Homo sapiens: one gene and its partner. The protein of the gene in region 2 purifies or fractionates together with the protein of the main gene of each other region. This does not show direct contact. Each region holds a gene or a part of one and is shown on either strand. Other genes may lie near its edges.

Region 1 (3,812 bases), on a different chromosome or scaffold from region 2:
GTGGCAGGAGAAGGAAAGCTTGACTGCTGGAAGTTGAGTGAAGGGGAGCTTGAAAGTTCCAATGAGGAGCTGGTTGAGGGGTTGGATGGTGCTAGAAAGAGTTTTTACCTGTTTGGCATGGGAGTTTTGAGCATGTTTATGAATGGAGGAGTCAGGAGAGAAGGAGAGGGGGAAGAGACTACAAAACTGAGAGGAGAAGATCTTGAGGATTGGGGAGTGCCTCGGATTGGCCTGAAGAGGAGGACTGGACGTCAGTCTCTGAATGGAGGGAAGGAGGAAAGGAGAGGAGGATATAGAGAGGCACTAGGGACATAGGAGAGTGAAGGATGGAGGATTCAGGGGCCTGATGATGGCTCAGATTAGTCAGTGATGGGAGAGCAGAGGACACTTACTAGAAACAGACATCAGAACTGAAGGCAGCTGTATTTGGGGACCTCAAATTTGTGGAGTGAAGATCTGCATTATGCAAACTCTCCCATATCCTCAATCTCAACTCTTAATGTTTCCTATAACTTAGGATCTTAATTAAAATCTGACAAACACTATGTGCCAGGCATGATTCTAAGTGCTTCACAAGTATTAACTTATTTAATTGTGTTTTCTTTGTTTTTGTTTTTTTGGTGGCTTTTTTTTTTTTTTTTTTTTTTTTTGAGACGGAGTCCTGCTCTGTCACCCAGGTGTGAGTGCAGTAGCACAATCTTGGCTCACTGCAACCTCCACCTCCCGGGTTCAAGCGATTCTCTTGCCTCAGCCTCCCGAGCAGCTGGGATTATAGGCTCACACCATCACGCCTGGCTAATTTTTGTATTTTTAGTAGAGATGGGGTTTTGTCATGTTGGCCAGGCTGGTCTCAAACTCCTGACCTCAGGTGATCTGCCCGTCTCGGCCTCCCAAAGTGCTGGGATTACAGGCATGAGCCACCATGCCCAGTGTAACTTATTTAATTGTGACTTACTTTTCCTTGCAGTCCTCTCAAGTAGAGTGGTTTCTGTCTCATACTCCACACTCCTTAGGGCCAGAAGGTGGGCTTGAGCCCTCCCTCTTCCCAACTGGAACATTTCTGAACTATTCAACTCTAGCTCCTTTGAAGCTCATGCCTTCTATCTCTATCACTCCTCCTTATTGTTGTCTCTGCTAACCTAATGGTTGCCCCCACTTCCAATTGTGGACATCTTTCTCTTGGCTCACTCTCTTCTTCCATTACCCCCCGCACCACTCTGCCATCATTCTCAGTGGCACTAACATCCATCCCCCATTGTGATTTCTTAATTCCTTGACCTTCTCACCCCCAGTGATCTTTTCCCCCATTTCCCATGCTCCCACTAACACCCACTTCTCATCAACTATCACTGCATTTCAACCATTCTACTCTATTCTTCAGCAGCTTTCTTCCAAGCTCACTGAATCTAGTGTTTCCCCATGCAAAACACCTTCTAATTCAGCAATATCCCCTTCCTATTTGTCAAGTGTACCTGGCTCACGATAGCTTCCTAACTGGTCTCTGTTTCCACTCTTGCTCCTTTATAATCCATTCTCTCCATAACAGCTAGGGTGAACTTTTTACATTACATTATTTCCCTGTATATATATATTTTTAAAAACTCCAATGGTTTCCCATTGCACTTAAAATAAAATCCAAACACTTTCTGAAAACCTACAAGCTCCCCCTTAAACTGCCCTTATTCTCTCCAATTTCACCTCATCCCACTTTACTCCTCACTTGGCCACACTGGTTTCTTTTCTGGTATCTGAACATGTCCTGTCTACTTCTTCCTCAAGGCCTTTGCACAGATTTTTCTATTGCCTGGAACAATCTGTCTCCTTCTTATCCTCAGAACTCAGGTCAAATGTCACCTCCTCAGGGAAGCCTTCCTTGATGACTATATAGAATAGTTCTTGCCCCAAACACCCCTACTTCTCTCTGTTTATATCCTGTAAAACATTAATACAAGCTGCAGCTCTCGTTTTCTTGATTGCTTACTGTCAGTCACTGCCCACTAGAACATCCTCTGAGAGCAGGGACCAAGGGATACATGAATGAATACTAGTTGACAGTGAAGGCTCTGCAGTGAAAACTGGATTCAGATCTCAGCTATTTACTTACTGTGTAGCCTTGGAAATATTTCTTTTTTTTTATTTGTTTATTTAATTTAAGATAGAGCCTCTCTCTGTCACCCAGGCTAGAGTGCAGTGATGTGATCATGGCTCACTGCAGCCTCCACCTCCCAGGCTCAAATGATCCTCCCACCTCAGCCTCCCGATTAGCTAGAACTACAGGTGCATGCCACCACACCCAGCTAATTTTTAAATTCTTTTTTAGAGACTGCATCTCACTATGTTGTTTCCCAAGCTACTCTGGAACTCCTAGGCTCAAGTGATCCTCCCACCTTGGCCTCCCAAAGTGCTGGGATTACAGGCATGAGCAACTGCACCTGGCCAGAGATATTTCTTAATTATTTACTGACTTTGAACCTTAGTTTCCTCCTCTCTAATATGGGGATACCTGGGTGTGGTAGCCTGCACCTGTAATCCCAGCTACTCAGGAGGCTGAGGCAGGAGGATCACTTGAGCCCAGGAGTTCAAGTCCAGTTTGGGCAATATAGCAAGACACTCATCTCTAAAAAAAAAATAAAATTTAAAAAATTGAAACAAGCTGGGCACGGTGACTCACGCCTGGAATCCCAGAACTTTGGGAGGCTGAGGCGGGCAGATCACAAGGTCAGGAGTTCGAGACCAGCCTGGCCAACATGGTGAAACCCCATCTCTACTAAAAATGCAAAAATTAACCGGATGTGGTGGCGTGCGCCTGTAGTCCCAGCTACTTGGGAGGCTGAGGCAGGAGAATCACTTGAACCCAGGAGGCAGAGATTGCAGTGAGCCAAGATGGCGCCACTGCACTCCAGCCTGGGTGACAGAGAGAGACTCTGTCTCAAAAAAACAAAAACAAAAACAAAAAACAAACCAAAAAAAATTAAAATGAAAAGTTACATTAAAAAATTAAAATAAAAAAATAAAATGAAGTTAATAAAGTATCTGTTGCAGGGATTAAGGAAATCAGTATGTATAAATCACTTAGCCAGTCCCTGGCAAACAGTAAGCAATCAATACATGGTAGCTACTGTTATTACAATTTCTCAGCCAGATTTTCTCCAGGAGTGCTCAGTGATCTGGGCACAGGAGAAAGTGCAGAGACATCCAATTTCAGCTCTGATCCAACATTGAGCTTCTATTGCATGGGTTTTGCAAAGGATAAAGATGTGAAGGAACTGCAGGGGAGCCAGTCGGTCAGCCACAGGGTCCAGGATGGGCAGGAAAGACAGGGAGGCCAGGACGCAGCTGGTGACTGGGAAAAGAGGGAGCAGTCAAAGGGGCTAGATATCTATATTGTATCGAAAGTGGTGTAATGGGAGTGGGGTAACGGGAGCCAGGAGTGGAACGTTGGCGTTTATGACTACAGATAAGATTCTGGATTATAAGATTCAGGGCATGGTTGGGAGGGAGTGTTACTGAGGTGGAATGGGGGACAACCCTGAAGAAACAGTTAAGAACCAACAGGCACAAGAGGGTGGTTGTCCCCAGGCTGACAGAAGAACTTGAATGGACAGGAAAACTGAGGCCATTTCCAGTTGATAAAGGAGAGTGGGCAGTGGAGCTGGAATCTCAAAGAGCAGGGCTGGCAGGGAAGCAGTATCTCTGGTGCAGAGCCAGGTTTCCGTTGGGGCAGAAGGCAGAGGAAAAGTGCGGATAGAGGCAGTGGTGGTGAGAAGACCTAGGGACCAGGCCACCCAAGACAGAACAATGAGAGATAAGGG
Region 2 (3,809 bases):
ACTTGGAGGAGGGTGCTGCACAAGGGCCCCAGCTATAGATCCGACTGTCCAGGGGTGGACCTGAGCAGACAGCAGGCCTTATCCAAGAAGCTGGGTCCTGGATTTCTCCAGAACCTGTGTTCATGCCTGAGACTCGAAGTTGGTACCCAATCCTAACCCTCCCGGCTTAGGCCACCTCTTCTAGCCACCCCACCAGGAACCTCCTTGGGACTATGCCCACTCAGGCTCCATGCAGGCTGGTCCCAGGCCCCGGGAGGCTGGGGCTTCCTAAGGAGCTCAGTGGGCCACTGACGGCAGCCAGAGCCGGGCTCAAACACCACCCCTCACTTCAGGCCTGCCCCGCACAGCCTGGCCTGTTTGCTTCTCTTCAAAGAAGGGGAGATGCAAAGAGCTTTGGGTCAAGTTCCAGGGCCCAGGCAGGGGCTTGGGATATAAGTCCCTGGGGCTGGAGGAGACCTCCAGGGGCACCCCATCTAGCCCCAGCCCCTTTTCCTGCAGGGCTTTGGGGGTGATGCTCCAATAACAGCCCAGGCAGACTGGGAAGCAGGAAAAATGTTTCCCCCCAGGAGAGGGAGCTGTGTTGCCCCCACTGCCTAGATCCGGCAATGGAAGGTAACAAGTGCTGCCTGCTGCTCAGGTGTCTTGGGACTATCCTTTACCCTTTCTAGGAAATGGGGTTAGAGATGGTCTGTGTGGTTGATGTCCAAGTGCCGCTTGGGGTCTGACACTGCAATTTTCTCATGTGGCCCCAGGCACCTTTGTTGTGTCTTGAGGCCCACAGTGCTCTCCCTGCTGCTCCGTAGACCTGCATCCTAGGCTGTGCCTGTGGCTCCTGTAGGGCAGATGACCCCCGAGCCCTGCAGCGGGCTGTTTCCCTCTCTGGACACCTGGCTGAGGCTGCAGGCACACCTATCTGTCTGTGGGGCCTCCACAAAGATGCCTGACTGGTTCTCAGCCTCGGCTGGGAACAAAGCACAGGCTCTTGCTCAGATGGGGGGCGGGGATTTTCTGCAGGGCAGATATTTTCTCTTGGGACAGCACTTCTGGTGCCAGGAGAAGCACGTGCAAATCAGATGTCACGTCTTCCTTGGAGCCCCTCACATCTGGGTGGGCTCTCTGTGGGCCACCCAGCTCTCTGGGGCACCTCATCCCGGGACAGCTCCGGCTGGGACGAAGTGCAGCTTTTGCCTCCCCACCCAGGGTGCACTCAGCAAATGTCCAGTTGGGTTCATCTGAGACCCTGCGTGAGGCTGCATTTCCTCCAGCCTCTGCTCACATCCCCTCTCCCGGAATGCCTTTCCAGCCTTCCCTCCTGCAAAACCCCACCTACCCTCCCACCGGTCTGCAGCTCAGAGGACCCTCCTCCTCAGAGGACCCTCCTCTGTGATGCCTTTGCAGGGGAGTGGGCTGCTTCTCCCTTTACCTCCTACATTCCCCCCCACTCTGCTTTTGCCTCGTGGGAACCTCTGTCAGACTGCTTTGTGCCATGGCAGCCTCCCCACTTGGCCTCTGTCTCCTGTGCCTTTCTGTCCCCTTCCCCAACTCCAGACCTCCATTCTGAGGGGAGGGCTAAGGGGAGCCGGCCAAGCCCATTTCTGCTGCGACTTTGCATCAAGAAGCTCCCAGAGCCCAGGAGAGGAATGGGTTTCCTGCTTTTAATTGAGGCGGGTGTGAGTCACTCCCGGAAAATGGTATTTGACAAGGCAGGGATTGAAGCCTGGGAGCCACATCTGCTGGGTGTCTGGGGAGCCTCTAGTGGAGGATGGCCTTGCTGGGGCCCCTGGGTGTGGGCCTTTAAGCTGGCCAAACTGCAGGAAAAGCATCAGGAGGCCAGCCATAGGGAAAAATGACACGTCCTCGTCCCAGTCCTTGGTTCAGTGGAGTTCCCTGTAATTACCATAATTGCCATGTGGCTACCTCCCTGGGTCCTGCAGAATACTTCAGGTCACCACCGGCCTGTCAGCCCTCCACGGGGAGTTTGTGTGGATCAGGAGGTGCCAGAAACCACCGCGGGTCTCCTGCGGGTGCCTGGCCTACTTGCACTGCCCGGAATTGCTGCTCTGAGCCCTCTGGGGGGCAGGGGGTGCTGTGTTCCCACTGCAGTGTGGTGGAGAGGGAAGGGAACAGCTACTCACTGATGGACAACACGAAGAGCGAAAAGATGCCCACCACGTGCCACAGGCGCATGTCCCAGAACACCACTGTCTCCTTGGTCAGCGGAGGCGGCTTGGGCTTGGGTGGGGCCGTGCTGGGCTGTGGGTCAGGAGAGAGGGGAGTGAGTTAGGCAGAGGCCAGCTGGCTGGAACCAGCTGAGAAGGGCCCAGGTCTCAGCAAACACTCAGCCCAAGCATATCAGAATCTCCTAGAATCAACTCTCTTAAGCATGCACTACCAACACCCTAGACCTTGGAAAGTTCCAGATTTAGAGCAAGAGAACTGAGCAGAGCCAGGTACTTGAAGTGGGAGGGTGGTTGATGCTTGGGGAAACCAAGGCCTGGAGGAGCAAATGTGGATGGCTTGTCCTGGCCAGGTTCAAGGCCCCTATGAACACACCCTCCTACTCCAGTCCTGGGCTCCACCCAGGCAGATGGGGTCTCAGGACCAAGGCCAGAGACAAGGCGAGGCCTGGGGGGTGCTGGCTAACTGGCTTTGCTCTCACATCTCCCCAGTGAGGGTGGGGTGTGGAGCTAGGAGTCTGGGCCACATAGTTCTGCCAGCTGGCCTGGACCCCTGCCAGGTGGCCTCCTTTGGTCGCCTACCCTACTAGGAGTCACTCTGAACAGAAGACTCTCCCAGAGTGTCCACAGGACAGGCACTGGATAAATAAAAGGTCTGCAGTGCTGTGGCGACACCTGGAGGCCAAAAGGCAGAAGTGCGGCTGTAGCAAGCCTGAATAGAGCACAGCCAGACACTCCCACTTTCCAGGTGGACATGACCCTGCCCTGGGGGACTGAGGGGATAGGACACTGCCCCAGGGTCTAGAGGACACAGTCCTGCCCCAGTTCTGAGAGGACATGGCCTCATCCTGGATATCTAAGGGACATGGCCCAGCCCCAGGTCTGAGAGGACACAGCCCTTCTCCTGGGTGTCTAGGGGACATAGTTCTGCCCAGGTCTGAGGGGAGACAACCCTGCTCCTGGCTGTCTAGGGACATGACCCTGGCCCTGGGTGTCTAGGGGACATGGTCCACCCTGGGTGTCTAGGGGACATGGTCCACCCTGGGTGTCTAGGGGACATGCTTCACCCTGGGTGTCTAGGGACATGACCCTGGCCCTGGGTGTCTAGGGGACATGGTCCTGCCCTGGGTGTCTAGGGGACATGGTCCACCCTGGGTGTCTAGTGGACGTGCTTCACCCTGGGTGTCTAGGGACATGACCCTGGCCCTGGGTGTCTAGGGGACATGGTCCACCCTGGGTGTCTAGGGGACATGGTCCACCCTGGGTGTCTAGGGACATGATCCTGCCCTGGGCGTCTAGGGGACATGGTCCTGCCCTGGGCGTCTAGGGGACACGGTCCTGCCCTGGGCGTCTAGGGGACACGGTCCTGCCCTGGGCATCTAGGGACATGGTCCTGCCCTGGGTGTCTAGGGGACATGGTCCTGCCCTGGGTGTCTAGGCGACATGGTCCACCCTGGGTCTCTAGGGGACATAGTCCACCCTGAGTGTCTAGGGACATGGTCCACCTTGGGTGTCTAGGGGACATGTTCCTGCCCTGGGTGTCTAGGGACATGGTCCTGCCCTGGGTGTCTAGGGACATGGTCCTGCCCTGGGTGTCTAGGGGACATGGTCCACCCTGGGTGTCTAGGGACA

The links.
Region 1: the proteins of TMIE (region 2) and TRIM3 purify together in Homo sapiens (affinity purification with mass spectrometry; one large-scale study listed by BioGRID and IntAct). This does not show direct contact.

Annotation. Positions count from the first base shown.
Region 1 is NC_000011.10:6,460,274-6,464,085, forward strand, and holds part of TRIM3 (tripartite motif-containing protein 3), read right to left. Parts: intron 1-3,812.
Region 2 is NC_000003.12:46,704,234-46,708,042, reverse strand, and holds part of TMIE (transmembrane inner ear expressed protein isoform 1 precursor), read right to left. Parts: intron 2,254-3,809; coding exon 2,136-2,253; intron 1-2,135. UniProt on the Homo sapiens protein: Auxiliary subunit of the mechanotransducer (MET) non-specific cation channel complex located at the tips of stereocilia of cochlear hair cells and that mediates sensory transduction in the auditory system.